7 linked regions of the Homo sapiens genome follow. The protein of the gene in region 6 purifies or fractionates together with the protein of the main gene of each other region. This does not show direct contact. Each region holds a gene or a part of one and is shown on either strand. Other genes may lie near its edges.

Region 1 (3,500 bases), on a different chromosome or scaffold from region 6:
GGGTCTAGGGATGTGAAAGGCCATGATGGTAAAGAGAAAAGCTCACACTACTCTTTTTTTAAACCTTTCCCCATCAGTAAGCTTATCTAGATCTTCTAGATCTCACCATCCTCTCCTGGCTGGATAACTTCTGCTCCCTACAACCAGTCCTGTCTGCCTCCAGCCCATGCCCCTCTGCTATGATCTTTTTTTTTTTTTTCAAGACAGAGTCTTGCTCTGTTGTCCAGGCTGGAGTACGGTAGCACGATCTTGGCTCGCTGTGACCTCCTCCTCCCAGGTTCAAGTGATTCTCTGCCTCAGCCTCCCAAGTAGCTGGGACCACAGGCACACACCACCACATCCAGCTAATTTTTAGTAGAGACAAGGTTTCAACATGTTGATCTAGAACTCCTGGCCTCAAATGATCCACCCGCCTCAGCCTCCCAAAGTGTTGGGATTACAGGCGTGAGCCACTGCGCCCGGCCATGCTACGATCTTTAAAATGAAAACCTAATCTTGGCACATCTCGGCCTAAAAATCACCATGACCCTTATTGCCCCCCAAGTCCAGGAGCTTTATAAGAACTAGAAAACTGCCCCTCCCGCAAGTCTCATGTCTCTTTTCCCTTCTTGTAGGTCAGGCTTCAGCCATACAATTCCTGAAATTTCTCTCCCATCCTTTCTTACTGGAGATACCTGCACTTGCTTTTCCTCTGCCTAGAGCTCTCCCCTTTACACTCCACCCCCACCTGTGCCTGGCCTGTTCCCCCTCACAGGTTCCCCCTTACCTAGAAGGCCTTTCCTGACTCCCTCTGAGGAGAAGGAGGAGCAGGGCTTCAAGCTGTTTTGTGCCTCTGATTTCCAGTTAACTGTGAGTCTCCCGCACTCAAGCATGACTGCTGTGAGGGGAGTTACTTCAGCTGTCATGTAACTCCATAACTCCGAGCAGAGCACCTGCACACAGTAGGTTCAAAATGTGTAGAATAGGCCAGGCACGGTGGCTCATACCTGGAATCCCAGCACTTTGGGAGGCTGAGGCAGGTGGATCATGAGGTCAGGAGTTCAAGACCAGCCTGGCCAATAAAGCGAAACCCCATCTCTACTAAAAATACAAAAATTAGCTGGGCGTGGTGGCTCGTGCCTGTAGTCCCAGCTGCTCAGGAGGCTGAGGCAGGAGAATCTCTTGAACCCGGGAGGCAGAGGTTGCAGTGAGCCGAGATTGTGCCGCTTCACTCCAGCCGGGGTGACGGAGCGAGACTCTGTCTCAAAAAAAAAAAAAACACAATGTCTAGAATAGTGGAATCGATGTTAGCATTTTATAGATGTGGCAGCTGAAGGAAAGAGAAGGTAATTGTCCTATTCAAGATGACAAGATAAGTTATTAGAATTCTTATTTTTCTCTGTTTCCTCCTTCAGCTGTGGAGAGGGAGTGTGTGTCATGGCGCCCCAGGCCAGGGAGGGGAGGTAGGGTAATGGGCCTGGGACATCAGAAGACATGGCACACTGGCAGAGTAGAGCCAGCCTGGGTGCTGGAGTCAGACTGCAGACTTGGTTCCCTGCTCGTCCCAGTTCTGCTGCCTGCGGACAAGTTATTTCAGCTCTCTTAGCTCCACATGATTTTTTTCATCTGTCAGGTGAGAATAATGGCACCTCCCTCCCAGGGAGGTGAGGATCAAGGGAAGTAGCCCATTAGCTCCAGGAGGTGGGGCTGTGTCTGCCCTGGTGGCTGCTGTGAGCAAGTCCAGTGCCGGGCACAGGAGCAGCTCTCTTTCCTCACCTCTCTGCACCGTGGTCCCTTAAACCCCCGGCCCCTTCCTGTCCAGGCAGTGTGTGGCCATCTAACGTGCCATCCAGTTCTTCAGGCTGTCATTCTGTCAGAGCCTGGAGTCGAGGCTGCGAGGGCCCTGGCTGGCTGGGTGTTGCCTGAGAGTTGCCCAGGGGAATAAGACTTTTAAGACTAGATTTTGTGCTCAGTGCCTCATTCCTCTGCGACTTTGCCCATGGACATGTCTTAGAAACTGAAGTTGCTTCAGAACAGCCCTGAGAAGGGCAGGGGCAAGGGCCTGACAGAAGAGGAAGTGCTCCTTCCAGAGGGCTCAGCCAGAGCCCCATGGGTGTGCTGGTCAGCAGGAGGGCAGTCGGAGCCTCAAGCCATCCATGCCTCTCTCTCCTTACAGGTACTCTGATGGCTACCGCAGCTCCTCCCTCCTCCGGGCCGTGGCCCACCTGCGGTCCCAGCTCTGGGCCCACCTCCCTCGAGCCCCCCTAGCTCCCAGATGGAGCCCCTCTGCCTGGTGCTGGGTTGGGGGAGCCCTGCTAGGCCCCATGGTACTGAGTAAGCATCCCCACCTCTGCCTTGTGGCCCTGTGTGAGGCAGAAGAGGCCCCTCCTGCCAGCTCCACACCCCATGTCGTGGGGTCTCGCTTTAACTGGAAGCTCTTCTGGCAGTTTCTGCACCCCCACCTGCTGGTCCTGGGGGTAGCCGTCGTGGTGAGGCTTTCCCCACTTCTCCATCCTGGGGACAGGGCAGGACCCAGAGCTGCAAAGGGATGGCATTCCTGCCTCGCTGCCTCTCAGGGGAGAGCTCAGGGGAGCAGCAAGGGCTAGCCAGGGGTCCAGGGGTGCCAGGAGCATCAACACTGGGTGGCTGGGTGGGCAGGGTTCCGTGGGGACTGGAAGCCAGGGTTTGAACCTCTGAGAGGCACTGATGTGTCCACATGACCAGCCACAACCTGGACAAGCGCAGTGCTCAGTAGTGGGAGAGGAAGGGCCAAGATCTGGCTGGGGATGGGGAGGAGTGGCTCCCCCACTTAAAACATTTGTGCCCTCTGTCTCCCCATTCCAGCTGGCCTTGGGTGCGGCACTCGTGAATGTACAGATCCCCCTGCTCCTGGGCCAGCTGGTAGAGGTCGTGGCCAAGTACACAAGGGACCACGTAGGGAGTTTCATGACTGAGTCCCAGAATCTCAGCACCCACCTGCTTATCCTCTATGGTGTCCAGGTACAGCCGGGAGTGGGGCTGGGGACCGCCGAGGAGCCACCCGAGGCATCCCTGAGTGCACTGGGCTCTTTCGCAGGGACTGCTGACCTTCGGGTACCTGGTGCTGCTGTCCCACGTTGGCGAGCGCATGGCTGTGGACATGCGGAGGGCCCTCTTCAGCTCCCTGCTCCGGTACTGCCAGCCGCAGGGTGCAGAGTTGGGGTGACTGATGGCCTGAGGGGTCTGGGGGTAGGACCTTATCCTGAAGTAATGTCTCCCTCTTCTGCCCTCCTTATTGGTTCTTGTCCCATGCCAGACAAGACATCACCTTCTTTGACGCCAATAAGACAGGGCAGCTGGTGAGCCGCTTGACAACTGACGTGCAGGAGTTTAAGTCATCCTTCAAGCTTGTCATCTCCCAGGTCAGTGGCCCAGTGGCCCCCACCACGTCCACACACACACTTTCCCATGTGGATTCACCAGGCCAGCCCTGCCCGCCCCAGCCCTGATGTTGGGCTGACAGGCGCATGCTGACTCGAGAA
Region 2 (3,500 bases), on a different chromosome or scaffold from region 6:
TAAGTTTATATACTATGTTTACTGGCCTCTTTTATGCTTGTCAAAAAATTACTTTTTGTTTGTTATTTTTTCGCACTTCTAGTTTTGTTTTCTCAGTAACCATTTCTCTGCTCACATTTTTCATTTTTCTTCCTGGTCCATGTCTAGTATAGCATGAGAATTGGTGTCCACTGTTGAGCAATATTTAAATGCATTGTGTCCTAGTGAAGAAGTGTCTTAGATGTCTGTGAAGTTCTCACCTCAAACTCTTTATTCAGTAGAGATGTCTGCATTTGGTCTAGGACCTCTGTTCAGTATTGTAATAGATAAGAGAAAAGTTTAAACTCTTGAGAATAAGTGATTTTCTTTTAAATTTAGATTTTTCGTTTGAAGTGGTGTTACTATATATAATTAATTACCTGCCACCATAGTGGCCATGCTTAATCATTTGGACTTCAAACAAATCTCTTTTTGAGGAGCACACAATTTTTTTTCTTTTGCTCTATTTCCTTTAGAGAGGAACACACAATTTTAACTATAAATTTTACTCCTCTGATTTAATCTTTAAAAAATAGAGTTTAAAATACCATATCAAATATATGACTGCTAAAAAGATGCATGTGCTTATTACATACCATATCTTTTTTTTTCTTTTGAGACAGGGCCTCTGTCGCTTAGGCAGGAGTGCAGTGGTGCCATCACAGCTCACTGCCACCTCCTCCCCAGTTCAAGGGATCCTCCCACCTCAGTCTCGCAGGTAGCTGGGACTGTAGGCGCACACCACCGCACCTGGCTGATGTTTGTAATTTTTTGTAGAGATGGGGGTCTGTCTGTGTTCCCAGGCTGCTCTCAAACTCCTAGACCCAAGCGGTCTGCCTGCCCTGGCTTCCCAAAGTGCTGGGATTCCAGACCTGAGCCACCATGCCCAACCGTAATTGGTTGTTTTGGCCCCATTGAGAATGTGTTATTCAGTAGAGCAGATTGTTCTATGGATCCAGAAACTAGATCTATTATTAGAATAAGAATTTTCTAACTCTTTCATAACCTGTGACTTAAGAATGAGACAGTAGAAGTTTTTAAGACAGCAAGAGAGTCTTTTTATGAGATCCAGTATCAGCCTCTCATAAGTTTGTTAAAAATAAATTTATGAAATGAAACTCACTAGAAATGTCTCTGTCTAGTACAGGGTTCATTTGCACAGTATCTTATTTAGACGTAAAAATCCAGGTGGGCAGAGAAGGCTTCTGGTGTGTCTGCCCCCAAATGACCTGTTCCCACCGCTTGGGCTCCATTGAAGTAGCCTCGTGAACTCCATAAGCCTAGATGTTGCGTTATTACCTCAGTGCTTTTGTTTGAGTCCAGGAAGTCAGTGATTTTTGAGCCTTTTGGAAATCCCACCCTTATCAGAATTTCTCCGATTCCATTGATAGCCTGTCTAATCTAAAAATAGCATGTGGTTTTATCTTTAGTCTATAATTTCCTCTTTGCTTCAAGTTTACTGAGATCTCTGATTCTCAGGAGACCAGATACAATTGGTGTGGGTGGTGACTTGGCCTCACTGAACAAATGTCTCTCTTTGGGGCCTAAGCATATTTGTGGGGTGCCTCATGGTACTTGCATGTAGCTCAGTAAGGCATGGAGCTTTATAACATTGGTTCTAAAACTTACCTGTGAGTAGAAGTCACCTGGGAAGTTGCTTGAAATGCAGATTCCTGGGCCTGGGCCCCAGAGACCGTGATTCAGTAGGTCTGGAGCGTGGGTCCTGTGACTGTGTTTGTTTTTTGTTTGTTTGTTTGTTTGAGATGGAGTTTCACTCTTGTCAACCAGGTACAGTGGCACAGTCTCGGTTCACTGCAACCTCCATGTCCTGGATTCAAGCGATTCTCCTGCCTCAGCCTCCCAAGTAGCTGGGATTACAGGTGCCCACCACCATGCCTGGCTAATTTTTGTATTTTTAGTAGAGACGGTGTTTCACCATGTTGGCCAGGCTGGTCTCGAACTCCATACCTCAAGTGATCCACACGCCTCAGCCTCCCAAAGTGCTAGGATTATAGGCGTGAGCCACCATGCCCAGCGGACTCTGTTTTTAAAGAGCATTCCAGGTAATTCCAAGGCAAGTGGTTCAGGTACTTAGAAAATTCTACAGCAGAATATACTTGGAAAAACTCTCTAGCATTTGTTGGAATTTAGTGTAATTAAGTGAAACCTACCTAGCAACTGTAGTAATTAAAAGCGTGGGGTGTGCTTTTTGTTGAGATCCGTGAATGTTTCTGTAAACACAATTTTGATTGTGTTGCGCTTCTTAAAGGTTGTGATGACAACGGTAATTTTAACCACTTGACCGTATATGGTTTTCATCCTTGAAGACTGTCATATATTTTCAAGTGTCTTTCCTCCCTGTTATTTTAGGTTAAAGATCGAGGTCCGGAAGCCACTAGGAGATTTTTTAATTGGTTTTATTGGAGCATTAACCTGGGAGCGATCCTGTCGTTAGGTGGCATTGCCTATATTCAGCAGAACGTCAGCTTTGTCACTGGTTATGCGATCCCCACTGTCTGCGTCGGCCTTGCTTTTGTGGTCTTCCTCTGTGGCCAGAGCGTTTTCATCACCAAGCCTCCTGATGGCAGTGCCTTCACCGACATGTTCAAGATACTGACGTATTCCTGCTGTTCCCAGAAGCGAAGTGGAGAGCGCCAGAGTAATGGGTAAGCACTTAGTTCTCATCTTGGGCTGTTTGAAAGGACTTTATCGATCTCTTTATTAACATCCTAGCTTCGGTTTGTTGTGTGCTTATTGTGTGCTGGGCCTGGGCTGAGTGGTTTACATGTCTTCTCTCCTTTAACACTGCATTTCCCCAAGGAGGCGGGTGCGGTCTTATTATCCCATCTTAAAGACAGGCCAGTGGCCTGATTCCAGAGCTCATGCTTTAACCCCACGTTGCACTTTCTCTCACTGCTAGTGTAGACGGAAGCTCCTTTGGTGCCAGATTATAAAGGTAGAAATTTGTGGAGGACATCGAGGAGACAGAAGACATGCTTTATACATGTTTCTTTTTATTTTAAAAAGCTTTGAAATACATTTGAATGAAAAACTAAGCAGTTGCTTATGCTGTCAGTACCTGTCTCTGCTCTTTAAAAAGTAAGCCACTGCCTCTTACCTAAAGGTCAGCATGGGCTCCATCATACAGCGGTCAGGTCCATCATACGGCGGTCAGGTCCATCATACAGCGGTCAGGTCCATCATACGGCGGTCAGGTCCATCATACGGCGGTCAGGTCCATCATACGGCGGTCAGGTCTGTAACTCTTGACAGGAAGGTGCAGTAGCAGAATGGCGAGATGCACTGAGGGTAACCAGATGATCTCATGGGACTTACCCAGTGTTAGCACCAAAGTCCCATGAACTGAGGTGTTAAAACAGAAAGGCCTGTGTCCTCAGAACCCCTCCAAGTCACTGGCCAACTATGACTCATGTTTGGTGATGTTGGATGCCAGTTAATAAAGTCCAGAACTTAAGCCCAAG
Region 3 (3,500 bases), on a different chromosome or scaffold from region 6:
TGTGCGCAGGCGAGTGTAAACTGCACGGGCGCGTGTGCTCACCGTGTGCGCAGGCGAGTGTAAACAGTGCACGGGTGCGTGTGCTCACTGTGCGCAGGCGTCTGTAAACAGTGCACGGGCGTGTGTGTGCTCACTGCGCAGGCGAGTGTAAACTGCACGGGCGCGTGTGTGCTCACTGTGTGCGCAGGCGAGCGTAAACTGCACGGGCACGTGTGCTCACTGCGCAGGCGAGCGTAAACAGTGCACGGGCGCGTGTGTGCTCACTGTGTGCGCAGGCGAGTGTAAACTGCACGGGCACGTGTGCTTACTGTGCACAGGCGAGTGTAAACAGTGCACGGGCGCGTGTGCTCACTGTGTGCGCAGGCGAGTGTAAGTGCACGGGCGTGTGTGCTCACTGCGCAGGCGAGTGTAAACTGCACAGGCGCGTGTGTGCTCACTGTGCGCAGGCGAGTGTAAACTGCACGGGCGCGTGTGTGCTCACTGCGCAGGCGAGTTTAAACAGTGCACGGGCGCGTGTGTGCTCACTGTGTGCGCAGGCGAGTGTAAGTGCACGAGCGCGTGTGTGCTCACTGCGCAGGCGTCTGTAAACAGTGCATGGGCATGTGTGCTGTGTGTGTGCAGGCGACCGTAAACAGTGCACGGACGCGTGTGTGCTCACCGTGTGCGCAGGCGAGTGTAAACAGTGCACGGGTGTGTGTGCTCACTGTGCAGGCGAGTGTAAACTGCACAGGCGCGTGTGCTCACCGTGTGCGCAGGCGAGTGTAAACAGTGCACGGGCGCGTGTGCTCACCGTGTGCGCAGGCGTGTAAACTGCACGGGCGCGTGTGCTCACTGCGCAGGCGAGTGTAAACAGTGCACGGGCGCGTGTGTGCTCACTGTGCGCAGGCGAGTTTAAACAGCGCACGGGCGCGTGTGTGCTCACTGCGCAGGCGAGTGTAAACTGCACGGGCGCGTGTGCTCACTGCGCAGGCGAGCGTAAACAGTGCACGGGCGCGCGTGTGCTCACCGTGCGCGCAGGCGAGCGTAAACAGTGCACGGGCGCGCGTGTGCTCACCGTGCGCGCAGGCGAGCGTAAACAGTGCACGGGCGCGCGTGTGCTCACCGTGCGCGCAGGCGAGCGTAAACAGTGCACGGGCGCGCGTGTGCTCACCGTGCGCGCAGGCGAGCGTAAACAGTGCACGGGCGCGCGTGTGCTCACCGTGCGCGCAGGCGAGCGTAAGCAGTGCACGGGCGCGCGTGCTCACCGTGTGCGCAGGCGAGTGTAAACAGTGCACGGGCGTGTGTGTTCACCGTGTGCGCAGGCGAGTGTAAACACAGCTGGTGCCCTGGTGCGTGTGTGCTGTGAGCACAGGTGTCTGTAAATGATGTAAACCTCCCTTGACGTCAGGCCCAAAAGCCTGCCTTGCCCTAAGGTCAAGAGGTGTATCTGGCTGATGCCAGCGTCTGGGTGAGGAAAGAGCAGGTTCCACAAGGGCGACTCCTGTGAGGGTGTTGGCCTGAGCGCGCATGCGGGGAGGGGTCGGGGTGGGGGCGGCGCGCCGCAGTAACTCAGGGCCCCATCCCGCTCCCGTCTGTCCAGCGGTCCTAGACCCCCATGTCCTGAAGCGCACCTGTGCCCACCTGGCCCCGGGGAGCGCAGGTGTGGAGATGGGGTGTCGTGCCTGGGGGTTCCTTCCCCACGCGCTGCCCCACCAGGATTTCCCTGGGGTGGGGAGGGCTGCTGAGACAGGGCGCTGCCCTCCTCCAGGGTGACTGAGATGCAGTTTACAACCATGATCTCCTGGCCGGGCGTGGTGGCTCACGGCTGTAATCCCAGCTCTTTGGGAGGCCGAAGTGGGCGGATCACGAGGTCAGGAGATCAAGACCATCCTGGCTAGCACGGTGAAACCCCGTCTCTACTAAAAATACAAAAAAAAAATACTAGCCGGGCGTGGTGGCGGGCGCCTGTAGTCCCAGCTACTCGGGAGGCTGAGGCAGGAGAATGGCGTGAACCCAGGAGGCGGAGCTTGCAGTGAGCCCAGTTCACGCCACTGCATTCCAGCCTGGGCGACAGAGCGAGACTCCATCTCAAAAAAATAAAATAAATAAACAACCATGATCTCCCGTTTCAAGTTGCCACCACTAACTGTAGCCCCGCTGACGGGGGCACTGGCCTTGCAGACTGTCCAGGACGGCCGGCAGTTTCTAAAGTATGTTGACCCCAAGCTGGGAGTCCCACTGCCAGAGAGAGACTACGGGGGAAACTGCCTCATCTACGACCCAGACAATGAGACTGACCCCTTTCACAACATCTGGGTAAGACGCCGGGGGCCCTGAGGCGAGCCCCTCCCCAGGTGTGGCCCCGTGCCGGACCAGGCGCCATCCACGCTCCTGCCTCGCACCCCTCAGCCCACACTTGGGGTCTCCTGGTGCAGAGATGTGCTGAGGCCCTGTCCGTCTGGATGGTGCTCATGGTGGGCAGGGGGCCCCTGCTCTCTAGGCTGTCGTGGACGTGGTCTCCACAGGCCACGGCAGCACCTGTGAGTCCCTGGCCTTCTTCCCGGGGTCTGGCAGGTGCTGCTCAGGTGTGGGCTGATCTGCCGGTGTGGGGAGTGGGGGTGGCTGTGCCCCAGGGTCAAGGGTCATACCCTGTCGCCCACAGGACAAGTTGGATGGCTTTGTTCCCGCGCACTTTCTTGGCTGGTACCTGAAGGTACGGCACCTCCTCTTCCCGGCCTCCCCGCCCCGGTTCTGAGGCCTGCCGTGGGCTCTGGACCGTTTCTGTCCATGGAGTTGAGCTCAGGGTGCTCTGAGTGTGGTGGGAGGGTGTCGCACTGCAGCCACCCAGAGGTTCGAGAAGCCGTGGGGCTCCCGGACCTCCCAGAAGCCCTGATCCTGGTCGGGTCCCCGCTCCGTCCTCAGGGTCGGGGCGGTGGAAAGAGGCGGCAGGGCAGGAAGTCCCGCCCCTGCCTGGGCTTGGGCACTGCCCCATCCCACTTCTGAGGGACCCTGTGCTACCTATGGGGCTAAGAGCAGTGCCTGCTTGACCCTGCAGCCCACCCTGGCAGAGTTTGGTGTCAGGCCCCGGGCACGGGGATGCTGCCTTGTTTGCTGACAGTCGTACATCGAGGCTGCTGGAGGGGCAGCCACCCACCCCACGCTCACCCTGAGACCTCACTGGGGGCCCTGCCAGTGCTGTCGACTCCAAGAATGCTGCCAGCCGGGGTGGGGGCTGCACGCACCCGTGGGCAGGGCCGGGCGTGGCCTGCGTCCCATACTCTGGCTGCCAGCCGGGTGGGGGCTGCACGCACCCGTGGGCAGGGCCGGGCGTGGCCGGCGTCCCATACTCTGGCTGCCAGCCGGGGTGGGGGCTGCACGCACCCGTGGGCAGGGCCGGGTGTGGCCGGCGTCCCATACTCTGGCTGACCCTGGCGCCCACAGACCCTGATGATCCGAGACTGGTGGATGTGCATGATCATCAGCGTGATGTTCGAGTTCCTGGAGTACAGCCTGGAGCACCA
Region 4 (3,500 bases), on a different chromosome or scaffold from region 6:
GGATAAATGATGTTGTAAGAGCCCCATGTGCTTCCAGTCTTTCCATTGTTGTACAAGGCAAATTCTAGATTCCCCAGCAGTTTAATGAAATACTGGTGCTCCTTCCAGCAATAATTTTTTCTAATACAGAGGGAGACATGCATTCTTCATAAAGCAAAAGTGGGGCTACAACCAAAATGGTGTGCATATGACATTTCTATCAATAGTGGAAATGCTTTATTAATAAGCTCGAGAGCTATTAACAAAGACTTTAAATATAACACCCATATAGATGTTTGTAGGGATGAAATGAAGGCAGTAAGAAAACAAATTAGCCAACAGTTGGCCTCCCTGTATCTGTTTCTGCCTTTACTTTAATAACTTATCAATGCACACAAGGGGAATGCAAAATTCTCTGCATGGGAATGGCTGTGGCTCAGAGCAAGCTTGTAGATGCTGCATGTCTCTTCAATGGATACAATTCTATTTTTTGATTGCTTAACAAATGTTAGAGAAGGAGCTGGAAAAAGAAACAAGTTTTCATCAAAATCAGAATATTGGGCCAGGTGCAGTGGCTCACGCCTGTAATCCCAACATTTTGGGAGGCCCAGGCGGGCGGATCGCTTGAGCCCAGAGGTTCAAGACCAGCCTGGCAACATGGTGAAACCCCATCGCTACAAGAAATACAAAAATTAGCCAGGTGTTGTGGCACACACCTGTAGTCTCAGCTACTCAGGAGGCTGAGGTGGGAGGATCACTTGAGCCCAGGAGGTTGAGGCTGCAGTGAGCCATGATTGTGTCACTGCAGTCTAGGTGACAGAAGACCTCATCTCAATTTAAAAATATCAGAATAATATTTAATAAAATATTGTACACATGAATTTAAAGATCCTTTGCCTTTTATCTCAGTTGTAGCACCCAGGATAACCTGAGAAGTGGAAATCTCACAAATTTATTACTCTCTTCTCCTCTCTTTCTTTCTCCCTCTCCCCAACTCCTTTATTCTGTTTTATGTGCATTTTCAACCCTCTCAGAATTAATTATATCTTAGACTCCTTAGAGGTGACTTCTGCATTTATTAGACTCCAAAGAGTTAAATATACAAGAATTAGTTAGTTACAATGCCAGTACTGACCAAAAAAAAAAAAAAAAAAATGAGATTGCAAAAAATTCCTTTTGTTCAAGGATTAAGTGCAAACTGCACTCCACAACATTATGAAAAATATTGGCCCTTGGGGGAGATACTTCTCTACTTTTGAAATGACTGTCTTGTGATAAAATAACCAAACCTAAAAATGAGATAACATGAAAAGGAAACTACTATTGTAATCTTGACCTCTACTTAAGATACATCCCTCTTCATTCTTTTATAAAAAGCTCTAAGAATATTTATTTTGGCTGGGTGCGGTGGCTCACGCCTGTAATCCCAGCACTTTGGGAGGCCGAGGCGGGTGGATCACGAGGTCAGGAGATGGAGACCATCCTGGCTAACACGGTGAATCCCCGTCTCTACTAAAAATTCAAAAAATTAGCCAGGCGCGGTGGCGGGCGCCTGTAGTCCCAGCTACTCAGGAGGCCGAGGCTGGAGAATGGCGTGAACCCAGGAGGCAGAGCTTGCAGTGAGCCGAGATCGCACCACTGCCCTCCAGTTTGGGCAACAGAGCGAGACTCTGTCTCAAAAAAAAAGAAAGAATATTTATTTTAACCAGAAAGAAAGGGCCTTCTCTTATATGTTAAGTGAAAAATCAATTTGTTTTCATTTCTGTGCCTCATTTAAATTATACATAATAATAAAGAAATTACATTCTGTTTACAGTTCATTAACTGGGGAAGCTGTATTTTGGCCACTAATCATCTGAGCATTTTCTGTCTTGGGATTTAACATAGAACTGATCAACACTGCCTCCTCCTGTCAGATATTATGTGTAAGACTATAGAAACTCCTGTCCAACATTTTAGAACTGTAAGGGAATCTAGAGAGAATATAGTCAACTCCATGTTTCTCCAACCAATTTAATACATAAAAGCGGATGATAAGCTATTAGATTGGTATTTCTATCAATATTTTATAGAATTAGAGAAAAATGGAGTTTTATATTCTTGAATAATCTGTGTCTTTGGATGGAAAACTGTATCTATACACTTGGAAGCTCAGAACTTCTAAATACTAATTTGAAAACTTCTCTTTTTCCTCACGGCTTATCCCCTAAAACACATGTAGCTAATAAAAATGAAATACAGAGAGAAACAAAAGACATAAAATTATAGAGGCATTGCCATTAGTGTCCTTCTTTAAAACAAAAACAAAGCATTGATATCTGGAGCCAGCAGGGAATGCTCTATGGAAACTTTGAGTGCATTAGGACTGAAATGTTCGCACACATGATTACAGTTCTTTACTCTAAGAAATTATTTTTAGGCTTTTAAAAAACATTCATCCAAATAACTTAATTTGGTAAGAAAAGCTATGAACAAATGGAAAGAATGTATTTCTCACTGGACTCTTTCTTCTTCTATAGATAAAATCGCTATTCCAGATTTTGGCACTGGTGCCATGGAGAACTGGGGACTCATCACGTACAGAGAAACGAACCTGCTTTATGACCCTAAGGAATCAGCCTCATCAAACCAACAGAGGGTGGCCACTGTGGTTGCCCATGAACTTGTGCATCAGGTACAGAATCTTAGCACTGAATCAGCTTGTTTTTTTAAAGTGGCTTAAGACCACAGGAATAATTCAAATTATTTATGACTTAGCAAATAAAAAATAGCCAACTCAGAAAAACTTGCATGAAAATCTTTCTTGGTACTAATAAACATTTAGCCATAAAGAGACTTTGAACCACATTGTTTTGCCTTTAGGAAATATGCACGAGGCCTTCATATAAATTTATGTACCCCAGTAATAACTAAATAAAGGCAATAAACTAAAGACAATTTAATATCATTTAAATAATCAGAATAAAGCAGGAAATAAATGTTAAGTACAATGCCTGCCACTTCTGTCACAGTGACAACATTGGCACGGACAAATAAATGTTTTGACATTTTCTAGGCCTCTCTACCATACCCATAAGAATGTAATTATCTCTTTATTGCTTATAATTTCAGTGGTTTGGAAATATTGTGACCATGGACTGGTGGGAAGACTTGTGGCTAAATGAAGGATTTGCTTCTTTCTTTGAGTTTCTGGGAGTAAACCATGCAGAAACAGACTGGCAAATGGTGAGTCCTAAACACATAAACTTGAAATCTCTCTTTTCCTCATGCAAAGCAGATGGAAGCCTTTGGACTATGATAATGGTCCCGAGTCAGATGGCAAGTACAGTGGTGAGCGGGGAATTCCACTGTGAGGATAGGGTGGAGCCAGCTGACTTCCACTGACTACACCTTGCCCCAGTACCTAGAAGGGCAGCTGATCATCACAATCTGGGGATATCCTTGACAGAGTCACTCAAAACACATTATCAAGGCAGGAAAAAAAAAAAAAAAACAGGTGGCATAGAAAATGTTAACTCTGT
Region 5 (2,233 bases), about 120 Mb from region 6:
TTACAGGCGTGAGCCACCGCGCCTGGCGAGAAGGTGAATTTGAGCTGGGTCTTGGAGAATGGGTAAGATTTGACTGGAGGGTGGGAGGGGGCTTCTCATTGAGGAGATCAGGCCCTCCTGGGGAAGGGACAGATGGGCTGGCGCCAGGCTTACTTTGAGGTGCTCAGAAGGGCCTTCGTCCTGGCCCAGCATGGACCCTGTGGCTTTGCACGACCTTTTCTCCCTGAATCTCTGTCCCATGTGTGTTGCTCAGGGACTCAGGGGAATGATCAGAGTGGGCGAGGCTGGTATGGTGGCCACCTGGGCACAGGGGCCCTTCCTGCCTCTGAGATATCCCTTAAGTCTCTCCCCAGCCCCACTCTCTCCTCTCAGTGACACAGAAATGAGACTCTGAACAAGTCCCTTGCCCAGCGTCATGCAGGGACCTCAAAGAGGCCCTCCAGATAGGAGGGTGGGGACCCGGCCCAGGTGCCCAGGGCAGCACAAGTCAGACACCTGCCTCAGAGCTTTTCTTTGTTTTTATTTTAAAGGAAAAAAACAAAAAAGAACAAAAAAACCAAAAAAAAAACAGTGCAAAAACCCATTTTCCAGTGTCAGCCTTGCCCACCCCCACCCCCAGGCCACCCCAGCTGTGAGCCTGACTCTTCCTCCCACTCAGCACCCCCTCCCCCCTCATGCATCCCCTAGGGGCTGGAGGCTCCACTTCCCTGGAGGGCCAGATCCCAGGAGGAACTGTGGGGTGGAAAAAACGGAGGGGGGGGAACAGCCCCAGATCCACCTGCCCCCCAGGTCTCCAGCCACCGGCACCAGGTGCACCAGGTACTCCTCTTGGCTCTCATTAACCCTCTCCTGGTCATGCTACTAGCTGGGGAGGGGTGGGGGGTACTGATCTGGGGGAACTCCCTCTGCACCCCTCTTTGCCCCGGGGCCGGCTCGGGGCTCTCCTCACTGAGGTTGGGGGGCTCCCTCCCTCCATCATGGGGGAGAGCAGTGAAACCCCCAAGTTTAAATACCTTAATGAAAGCAGGGGCTGGGGAGGAAGGGGCTTTAGATCTAATAAATTATTAGCGTTTTAGTGTCCGTGGGAGTGGGGGTGGGGTGGGGCAGGATGTGGCCTCCAGGGCCCCTCCCTCCCCTTACTGGTGAATCTCATTCTCTATGAGGCTGTCCTCGCAAGACTGGAAGTCTGTGTCCGTGAGGGCGTCGGGTGGCATCAGCAACTCCTCATCTTGGGATGAGGATGATGGGGGCTCATCCCCTGAGCTCCCAGGAGCCCCATCCCCATCCCCGTCCACCTCTGAGTCCTGCAGCACCTGAGCGATGTATTTCTGAAGGAGGAGAGGAAATGGGGGCAAGGTGAACAGCTGCCCCTCATGGATTGCGGGAACACCAGGGCATGTAGGACAGCAGAGTGGGCAGGGCCCTGGGGGGCGGGGGCAGCCCTCCAGGGAGACCAGCTCTCTTCCCGCCCCCATGGGGTCTGGCACAGGTTCCCCTTTCTGCAGGACTAAGGGAACACTGGGCTTTGAGGCTGAGTCTGTCAGAGGCCCCTCCCAACCCTTGAGGGCACTCACCGCAGATTTGGGGACAGCAGCAGCAGTGGGGGGCCGTCCATTGCTTCTGGGGTCCACAGTATCTGTCTCCGTGTGCTCAATCTTGAGGGGCCCAGAATGAGTCAGGAAGTGGGGGCATGTCCTCAGCCCTGATCATGACCCCACGCCCGCTTGGCCCTGTTGGCGCTGCCCTCAGCCCTCGCCAGCCCTGTGGCCCTCTGCATTCCTCCCCTTGAGCTCCTGCCCGCAGCCATCCGCCTGCCACCCTTGCCCCACACCTTGTAGTTGTGGGCACTGAGGTATTTGAAGTGTCCAAAGCAGACGTGGCAGAGACAGATGACGATGGTGATGACCAGGACCACAAATGTGAACATAGACGTGGGAGCTAGGAACCCTGGTGTTGGGGGGCAAAGAATGGGGTTGCTATCTCCTGTGGGCCTCCCCACCCCAGCTTCTGATACCCTCTGAATGCAGTCCTCACTCTCCCAGGTGCTACAGACTGGCCCCAGCCTCTCCCAGGCCCCTTGCCTGCCACCCCCAGCCATGCGGCTTCTCCTGTGGCCTGCTCTGGCTGGAATCCACTCTGCTCGCCACCCCCCGTTCCCTGGGTAGGGATCCCTCACCCGTGCGCATGGTGGAAAAGAAGAGCAGCCAGAAGAGGCAGAGGATGGGCGCGGCCA
Region 6 (4,031 bases):
TTACATGACACAGGAGCCTTCATTCAGAATGAAGACCCACAGATACAGGGAAAACTGGATGGCAGTATAGAACTGTAGTTGGACAAAAAGGGCAGCAGCCCATGTTCGCAGGCTGAGGGGAAAACCCAGCAAGGCCTGTCTGTTCAGATCCGTCTTGGCCCCTCTGTGCAGCACTCCTTCCTCCAGGCACCGGGGACAAGACTCCTCTGGAATGCGGGTCTGGATTTCTTTACGGCCCACTGTTACACAGAAAGGCAGCGGGGAAGTTACAGTGGTATTTCTAGGCTTTCTGGCTGGCTTTGGGGAGAAAAGAGTCTGGTTTCCACGAGCTGCTTTGAGGAAGAAGGATTCTCAGTTCTATGGCTTGCCCCGGGGGAGAATGATGGGTGAGAGAAGAGACAGGAGGGCAGGAGAAGGTCAGAGAGAGAGACTTTGCTTCTGAGGCCTCCACCTTGGGGCATGGATTTCTGAGCCCCAACAGACCTTGACAGAAAAATCTAGGACACAAAGATAGTGGCTTGGACACACCTGCCTGCATTTACACTTGACCTGTCTGCGACGTAAACACTTTCCTCTTTCCCTCCAGATGGGTTAAGGGGAAGGACACTTCAGGGTTGAAACGCAGGAATACCAGATTGGAGCAAACACTTTTTAAAAGCAGAGTTATAAAATCTGGACAACATCAAAACAAGCAGCCCCAGCATGCATCCCGACGGCTCTTGTTGTTGGTTGGAGAATGAGCCCAGCAGTCAGGCTTGCAACCCACTTCGAATCTGGACCAGGGTTCTGACACGGATCCTGGTTCACATCACGCTGGGCCTTGTGGCCAAACACGTGTGTTTTCTCCATAGGGCCTTGAAGAAAAGCTGGCGGTGCGCATGAGATAGGAGTATATTAAGTTCCTGGCTGCTCGGGGCACTACGGGAAGATTACTGGGCTGTGATATGGGCCAGCACTCAGATTCCCTGCGGTGGGACACAGAGGGCGGGTTGTTTGTGCTGCTGGCGTGGAGCACCGACAAGCCTGTGGAGAACCAGTTATAATAAACACGACAGGCATCCTGGGAGTGAGCTCAGGGCATTTGGGAAGTGCAGAAGGACATGCACCCCCGCTGGAGGGGTGCACCTTTGAAGTCAGCTGGACCAAGGAAAGGCCCTGCCCTGAAGGCTGGTCACTTGCAGAGGTAAACTCCCCTCTTTGACTTCTGGCCAGGGTTTGTGCTGAGCTGGCTGCAGCCGCTCTCAGCCTCGCTCCGGGCACGTCGGGCAGCCTCGGGCCCTCCTGCCTGCAGGATCATGCCCACCACCGTGGACGATGTCCTGGAGCATGGAGGGGAGTTTCACTTTTTCCAGAAGCAAATGTTTTTCCTCTTGGCTCTGCTCTCGGCTACCTTCGCGCCCATCTACGTGGGCATCGTCTTCCTGGGCTTCACCCCTGACCACCGCTGCCGGAGCCCCGGAGTGGCCGAGCTGAGTCTGCGCTGCGGCTGGAGTCCTGCAGAGGAACTGAACTACACGGTGCCGGGCCCAGGACCTGCGGGCGAAGCCTCCCCAAGACAGTGTAGGCGCTACGAGGTGGACTGGAACCAGAGCACCTTCGACTGCGTGGACCCCCTGGCCAGCCTGGACACCAACAGGAGCCGCCTGCCACTGGGCCCCTGCCGGGACGGCTGGGTGTACGAGACGCCTGGCTCGTCCATCGTCACCGAGGTAAGAGAGTGAGCTCAGGGCTCAGATGGAGAAGCAAATGGTGGAGATTTTCTCAAGGAAGCAAGCAGGGAAGGCCCGGCTCTTATAAACCCTGCCTGGACATCTCTTTGGCCTGCATGTATCTTACAAAATCCTAGTTTCCAAATGAGAACATGCAGCTTCTAATTTGTCTGGAGAATAACTGGATTAGTTAAAACGTCCTCAGATGCTGACAATAATGATTCTAGTTTGTGCATGTCCCAGCAATAAGGAACAGGCCAAAGCATATTAGGACTCCTGGAAATGTTGCCAAGATAGGGATATTGTGGATCCTCCTCTTTTTCTGGAAGCCTTACCTCCCCCTCTATTCCTCCATCCCGCAGATGCCCACACACACCTGAAAGCCCGTGGAACTCAACTGAACTGTGCCTGACTGTGTGATAGGATGTGCTTTTCTCTCGATACCTATTTTTTCTCTTTAATTTCCTCAAAGTGTTCATATAAAATCATTTGGGGCTGGAGATCATGCTATGGCACTATTATTTTGTTAAAAACTACAGATGACATCAAAAGCTATTTGTGAAGCCTGATTCCAATAAATATAATAGAAAAAAAGACAAAAAATGGAGCTTGCTTTTATTGAAAGCAAAGCAAAATAGGGGAATTAAGTTACCTGAAAATACTGAGAGAGCCAGTTGCCTAGTTTAATTTAAAATGACTGCTTGGACAATGGGAAGATATTCTGTGTGAACAGATGGGTAGGTAGAGTCTAATTTGAAGGGTCTAAAGTGGTCAGATATTTACAGGAAATGTGGCAGCTCATGGGCTTCACACCACAAACTCTCCGAGGCTCTCTCACATGGCCAATCTCATTGCTTCCTACAGAGATGAGGAAACTGAGGCCCCAAGCAGAGAAGGTTTTTCCCCAGGCCACACAGTGAATAACTTAGCAGGGTTAGCCCTAAAAGATGGGTCTCCTGACCTGGTCCAGCACCTGCTCCACCCGACCACCTCCTCTTATTCCAAATAAGAGCAAATGCAGCAGCCTTCAGCAGTCACTCCTAATCCCCTTTTATTAAACAGACAGCAGGGAGATGCTAAATGGCCCAACCTCCTGGTGCCTGCATTGTATCACGTCCACACACCTATCTGCATGTGCATTGAAATTAGAAAGGAAAAAATAAATTTGTCTATAAGTAATTACCCAGTTTCAGCTGATTTAGCCAATGCTGTAGTTTTAGCTTCATGACAAATTGCCAGATGGAAGGGCAAGCCTTTTGGTTATGTAAAGAAAACTGAGGCTGGGCACAGTGGCTCACGCCTATAATGCCAGCATTTTGGGAGGCTGAGGTGTGAGGATCACATGAGCCCAGGAGGTCGAGGCTGCAGTGAGCCATGATCACCACTGTACTCCAGCCTGGGTGACAGAGCAAGACCCTGTCTCACAAAAAAAAAAAAAAAAGAGAGAGAGAGAGAAGAAGAAGAAAATTGGCATGATCAAGAAACAATGGCTTATTGCCACTTAACTATACAGTTCAATTCAAGGAATATTTAATGAGTACCCTAGCTGAGTTATGTCCAACAGGATTCTAACAGGATTTCATTTCCTTTCTCTCCCAACTTGGAACACTTCTCCCCTGCTGGCAGTTTAACCTGGTATGTGCCAACTCCTGGATGTTGGACCTATTCCAGTCATCAGTGAATGTAGGATTCTTTATTGGCTCTATGAGTATCGGCTACATAGCAGACAGGTAGGTTGAATCACCTGTGGTGGAATTTAAACAATCCCAAAGGTTTGGAGAACACTTGGATGCACCTGCCCCTGCTTGAATCCCATCCTTTCCCAAGCACACAGACCACAATCTCCTGGCCTTCATGCTGGTGTTTTTACAATCTTAAATTTCTTCTGCTGCTTGGATAACCATGACCAATGTCTTTATTTTCAAATTCTCTGGGGTCATAGACAGATATTTCAACATTACACAGCAAATCTTCCATGGGGGCTATGCAGAAGCTTCAAGTCGGAAGGGAGAGTAACAGATGATCTCATCCCTTTTGTAATTCCCAATTCATTTTTTGGCCTCATCACCATCCACCTGGCCATCAGCCTTCAGGGCCTCTGAGCTCAATCCTATCCTCTGCTTGTCTCGCATATGCTGGGAGCCCCCAGCACCAGGCCCAATGTAGAATCTCCCTAATACCCGTGGGATTGCAAGAGTCCTGAATTGGGTTCCTGGGGCCATATATGACCATATATGTGGAAGCCATAACTTAAAGAAAGGGAAACAGGGTCTGCCTACAACACGAGGGGTAAATGTCCACCTCTGCAATATCATTGTCCCT
Region 7 (3,500 bases), on a different chromosome or scaffold from region 6:
AGCCCCAGCTGATCTTTGCCATATGAAAATACTGCCCATATCATCTGATTGTTTTCTGATTTTAAAGGAAAGCTACAAGTCTAGATTTGTAATGTAAAATCTCTCACTTTTGAAAGATTGGTAACTAATTAAAACATTTTTTAAAACACAGAAGGCCTAGAAGAACATGGTTGCAGGTCTCTAGTTTATGCTGTATGGCCTGCAAGATGATGTAAGTAATATGACAATGTTAATAACCCATATACCAGAATTGGTAAACCAAAGTATTTGCCTTATGCAGCTACCTGCTTATTGCAGTGAAGGGTACTGAGAGTGTAATGACCATCTCTTGTCCTCAGTTAGTTACACATGTTTTTTGGACTGTCTTTAAAGTGAACAGTAACACTTCATTTTTTTAAACATGATTTTAATCTGAAAATAACTTCAGCAAGAGTTTACTCCTTGCTTAGGTATTGAGCAGACTTTACATGAATGATGTTTTTTAATCTTTAAAACAATTCATTGAAATAATGCTGTTTGTGCACAAAGAGGGTAAGTAGTTTAAGGTTACATAGTTAGCAAATGGTAGAATCCAAGCAGTCTTACTTTAAAAGTAAACATTATGTTATAGAGCCTTCTGAAAACAGTCATTCAGAGCTGTGGAAAATAAGTAGTCAAGCAGAATAATACAGATTTGTGTTTCTTTGAAGCAGAAAGAAAATAATAAAGGAGTGACTAGAATGATGAGTTGTTTGTTGTTTTTGAAGAGTTTTGTTGTTTGTATTTTAGTTTAACAGTCTTGTTTTGAAGCGCATTACTAACTAGGAATTCCAAAAATGTTTTAAGCAGTGGAAACATCATTGGAATAAGTTAATAGTACTCAGGATGATGACTTTGAATAGGAAAGCACTCATTTGGAAGTGTAAATTCAGATGGGTTATGTTAGAAAATTGGTTTCGTTACTGCATAATTAAGACTTCTTGGGCCGGGCACGGTGGCTCACGCCTGTAATCCCAGCACTTTGGGAGGCCGAGGCGGGCGGATCGTCTGAGGTCGGGAGTTCGAGACCAGCCTGACCAACATGGAGAAACCCTGTCTCTACTAAAAATACAAAATTAGCCAGGCATCATGGTACATGCCTATAATCCCGGCTACTCAGGAAGGCTGAGGCAGTAGAATCACTTGAACTCGGGAGGTGGAGGTTGCAGTGAGCCGAGATTGCGCCATTGCTCTCCAGCCTGGGCAACAAGAGCAAAATTCCATCTCAAAAAAAAAAAAGACTTATTTTCTCTTTTATTTAGTTATTTAACCATGCAGTGTCTTCTAAGTGACAGAGATGGGAAGACTAGATGATTTGAAGATTTGTCTTTTAATATAATTGTTTACTTTTCCTCTCCCATTTTATAAACTCATAGGATGAGTGAAATGAGAATTCTTTTCTGTTTTTCTGTCCTAAGTGTTTCCTTCTCTCTTTGAACCCTAGGGAATAGGTCCAAAACAGGCAGGCTTTATTGGCTCATTCATCTTGATTCCTTGCAGAGCAGAGCAGGTGTTCTCTAGAGGCAAGTGCTTTGTCTCCTCCTATGCAGAATGTCTCTGGAATACCATCCTCTTAGCCAGTGCTCAGATGACCTTAGTTGATAACAGTTAAAACCATTAACATTTTTTGGATTACGTTTTGTGGCAGCCTTACTCTTAGGAAGCCAAGAAAAGAATTAAATCTTGAAAGTTTTATTTTGGAGGTCTGTATACTTTCATAGATTTGGTATATTTTATGATCTGAAATACATTTAAATAAGTATAGGAAAACATGAACCGATTTTCCTTTTATTAAATTGGGGATTTTTTGTCTAGCATAGTTGGTTAAGCTTATATTTTTGTATTAAGTTTACTTGTCAAAATATTTGGCTGTTTTGACAGATGGGTTTGTTTAGCTTTACAGATACTGTGATACGGATCAGAAACCGACACAATGATGTCATTCCCACAATGGCCCAGGGTGTGATTGAATACAAGGAGAGCTTTGGGGTGGATCCTGTCACCAGCCAGAATGTTCAGTACTTTTTGGATCGATTCTACATGAGTCGCATTTCAATTAGAATGTTACTCAATCAGCACTGTAAGTGTCCCTCATGAGTCAAGAGAAGAAGCTAAATGAGATGTGTTGGCATATTTTAAATTTATTTAGGAAAGTTCCATTTAGGTAGGAAATTTAGTTTTACCTTTTGGCTAATTAAGAAAAATAAATAGACTGCCATCAAGAAAGGTGTTTTTATTGAATGTAAAATACTATGTTTATCCTAAAGGAAAATATTTGTTCTGTTTGGTACAATTTAAACAGTATTCAGATTTGGAAAAGAGCATTAGGTGGTTTAGCTTATTTTGTTGGTTTTTTTCCTTTTTGGATAGCTTTATTGTTTGGTGGAAAAGGCAAAGGAAGTCCATCTCATCGAAAACACATTGGAAGCATAAATCCAAACTGCAATGTACTTGAAGTTATTAAAGGTAAATACTGACATTTCTCCTTGCAAAAAAAGATACAAAAATCAAAATTATTGTTATTTCTTACTATTAAAACATCTATTTGTATCATGAGATAAAATGGTAGGCACAAATGCATGGGTTTGAAAATAACCTTATAGTATTATTTGTGCATTATGTATAGGATGACTATTTTATTGATAGAATTATTTGTTAGGCAAAGTTTGGTGATACTATAGAGGATATCTTTTTTGTTTTGTTTTGTTTTGTTTGAGACAGAGTCTCACTCTGTTGCCCAGGCTGGAGTGCAGTGGTGTGATCTCAGCTCACTGCAGCCTCTGCCTCCTGAGTTCAAGCGATTGTCTTGCCTCAGCCTCCCCAGTAGCCGGGATTACAGATGCTCAACACTACGCCTGGCTAATTTTTGTATCTTTAGTGCAGGCAGGGTTTTACCATGTTGGCCAGGCTGGTCTGGAACTCCTGCCTGCCTGCCTGCCTGCCTCGGCCTCCCAAAGAGCTGGGATTACAGGCGTGAGCCACCGAGCCCAGCTGAGGGTATCTTTCACTTAAAAAAGAATTGAAGTCCCTACTGCCCTGTTTCTAATTCTTACACTATGAGCAGTAATTCATAACAATTTGGTTTGAATCATTTCACACTTTTTTCTATTTATACCACTTGTACACATACACAATTGATGTTGGTCTTACATTGTTGTTTTTAGAAAATGGGGTGCTCTATGTTTTTTTCTACAAGTTTACAGACATCTTGCTGTTCAGTACATCTGGATATGCTCCAAGGTTTTGAATGGCTCTATGGAATGTATCAGTATGTGTTAATTAATTCTCCTGTTCATGCACACTTAGGTTGTTTTAATTTTTTTCTGTTACCACCAATACCAGCAGTACTGCTGTGAACATCCTTAAATACACGCTCACTTTTGCTAGTATTTTAGAGGTGAGATTCCTAGAATTAAAAACATTTAAATGCATATAAAATTTTGGTATCTCCAAAAAGGTTTCAAACAATGGATAAGAGTGTT

What was found.
Region 1: the proteins of SLC22A2 (region 6) and ABCB8 purify together in Homo sapiens (affinity purification with mass spectrometry; one large-scale study listed by BioGRID and IntAct). This does not show direct contact.
Region 2: the proteins of SLC22A2 (region 6) and SLC15A4 purify together in Homo sapiens (affinity purification with mass spectrometry; one large-scale study listed by BioGRID and IntAct). This does not show direct contact.
Region 3: the proteins of SLC22A2 (region 6) and PTDSS2 purify together in Homo sapiens (affinity purification with mass spectrometry; one large-scale study listed by BioGRID and IntAct). This does not show direct contact.
Region 4: the proteins of SLC22A2 (region 6) and ENPEP purify together in Homo sapiens (affinity purification with mass spectrometry; one large-scale study listed by BioGRID and IntAct). This does not show direct contact.
Region 5: the proteins of SLC22A2 (region 6) and TMEM63B purify together in Homo sapiens (affinity purification with mass spectrometry; one large-scale study listed by BioGRID and IntAct). This does not show direct contact.
Region 7: the proteins of SLC22A2 (region 6) and PDK1 purify together in Homo sapiens (affinity purification with mass spectrometry; one large-scale study listed by BioGRID and IntAct). This does not show direct contact.

What each region holds. Positions count from the first base shown.
Region 1 is NC_000007.14:151,031,450-151,034,949, forward strand, and holds part of ABCB8 (mitochondrial potassium channel ATP-binding subunit), read left to right. Parts: intron 1-2,155; coding exon 2,156-2,468; intron 2,469-2,823; coding exon 2,824-2,979; intron 2,980-3,055; coding exon 3,056-3,150; intron 3,151-3,274; coding exon 3,275-3,380; intron 3,381-3,500. UniProt on the Homo sapiens protein: ATP-binding subunit of the mitochondrial ATP-gated potassium channel (mitoK(ATP)). Together with pore-forming subunit CCDC51/MITOK of the mitoK(ATP) channel, mediates ATP-dependent potassium currents across the mitochondrial inner membrane.
Region 2 is NC_000012.12:128,813,959-128,817,458, reverse strand, and holds part of SLC15A4 (solute carrier family 15 member 4), read left to right. Parts: exon of another isoform or gene 1-2,081; intron 2,082-2,388; coding exon 2,389-2,684; intron 2,685-3,500. UniProt on the Homo sapiens protein: Proton-coupled amino-acid transporter that mediates the transmembrane transport of L-histidine and some di- and tripeptides from inside the lysosome to the cytosol, and plays a key role in innate immune response.
Region 3 is NC_000011.10:484,779-488,278, forward strand, and holds part of PTDSS2 (phosphatidylserine synthase 2), read left to right. Parts: intron 1-2,112; coding exon of another isoform or gene 2,113-2,160; coding exon 2,161-2,295; intron 2,296-2,641; coding exon 2,642-2,692; intron 2,693-3,420; coding exon 3,421-3,500. UniProt on the Homo sapiens protein: Catalyzes a base-exchange reaction in which the polar head group of phosphatidylethanolamine (PE) or phosphatidylcholine (PC) is replaced by L-serine. Catalyzes the conversion of phosphatatidylethanolamine and does not act on phosphatidylcholine.
Region 4 is NC_000004.12:110,507,155-110,510,654, forward strand, and holds part of ENPEP (glutamyl aminopeptidase), read left to right. Parts: intron 1-2,498; coding exon 2,499-2,653; intron 2,654-3,090; coding exon 3,091-3,204; intron 3,205-3,500. UniProt on the Homo sapiens protein: Regulates central hypertension through its calcium-modulated preference to cleave N-terminal acidic residues from peptides such as angiotensin II.
Region 5 is NC_000006.12:44,153,787-44,156,019, reverse strand, and holds the end of TMEM63B (mechanosensitive cation channel TMEM63B), read right to left. Parts: coding exon 2,177-2,233; exon of another isoform or gene 2,043-2,176; intron 1,948-2,042; coding exon 1,832-1,947; intron 1,656-1,831; coding exon 1,575-1,655; intron 1,329-1,574; coding exon 1,137-1,328; 3' UTR 501-1,136; downstream 1-500. UniProt on the Homo sapiens protein: Mechanosensitive cation channel with low conductance and high activation threshold. Osmosensitive cation channel preferentially activated by hypotonic stress.
Region 6 is NC_000006.12:160,256,022-160,260,052, reverse strand, and holds the start of SLC22A2 (solute carrier family 22 member 2), read left to right. Parts: upstream 1-1,231; 5' UTR 1,232-1,295; coding exon 1,296-1,709; intron 1,710-3,335; coding exon 3,336-3,439; intron 3,440-4,031. UniProt on the Homo sapiens protein: Electrogenic voltage-dependent transporter that mediates the transport of a variety of organic cations such as endogenous bioactive amines, cationic drugs and xenobiotics. Functions as a Na(+)-independent, bidirectional uniporter.
Region 7 is NC_000002.12:172,562,590-172,566,089, forward strand, and holds part of PDK1 ([Pyruvate dehydrogenase (acetyl-transferring)] kinase isozyme 1, mitochondrial isoform 2 precursor), read left to right. Parts: intron 1-151; coding exon of another isoform or gene 152-211; intron 212-1,521; exon of another isoform or gene 1,522-1,541; intron 1,542-1,913; coding exon 1,914-2,098; intron 2,099-2,388; coding exon 2,389-2,484; intron 2,485-3,500. UniProt on the Homo sapiens protein: Kinase that plays a key role in regulation of glucose and fatty acid metabolism and homeostasis via phosphorylation of the pyruvate dehydrogenase subunits PDHA1 and PDHA2.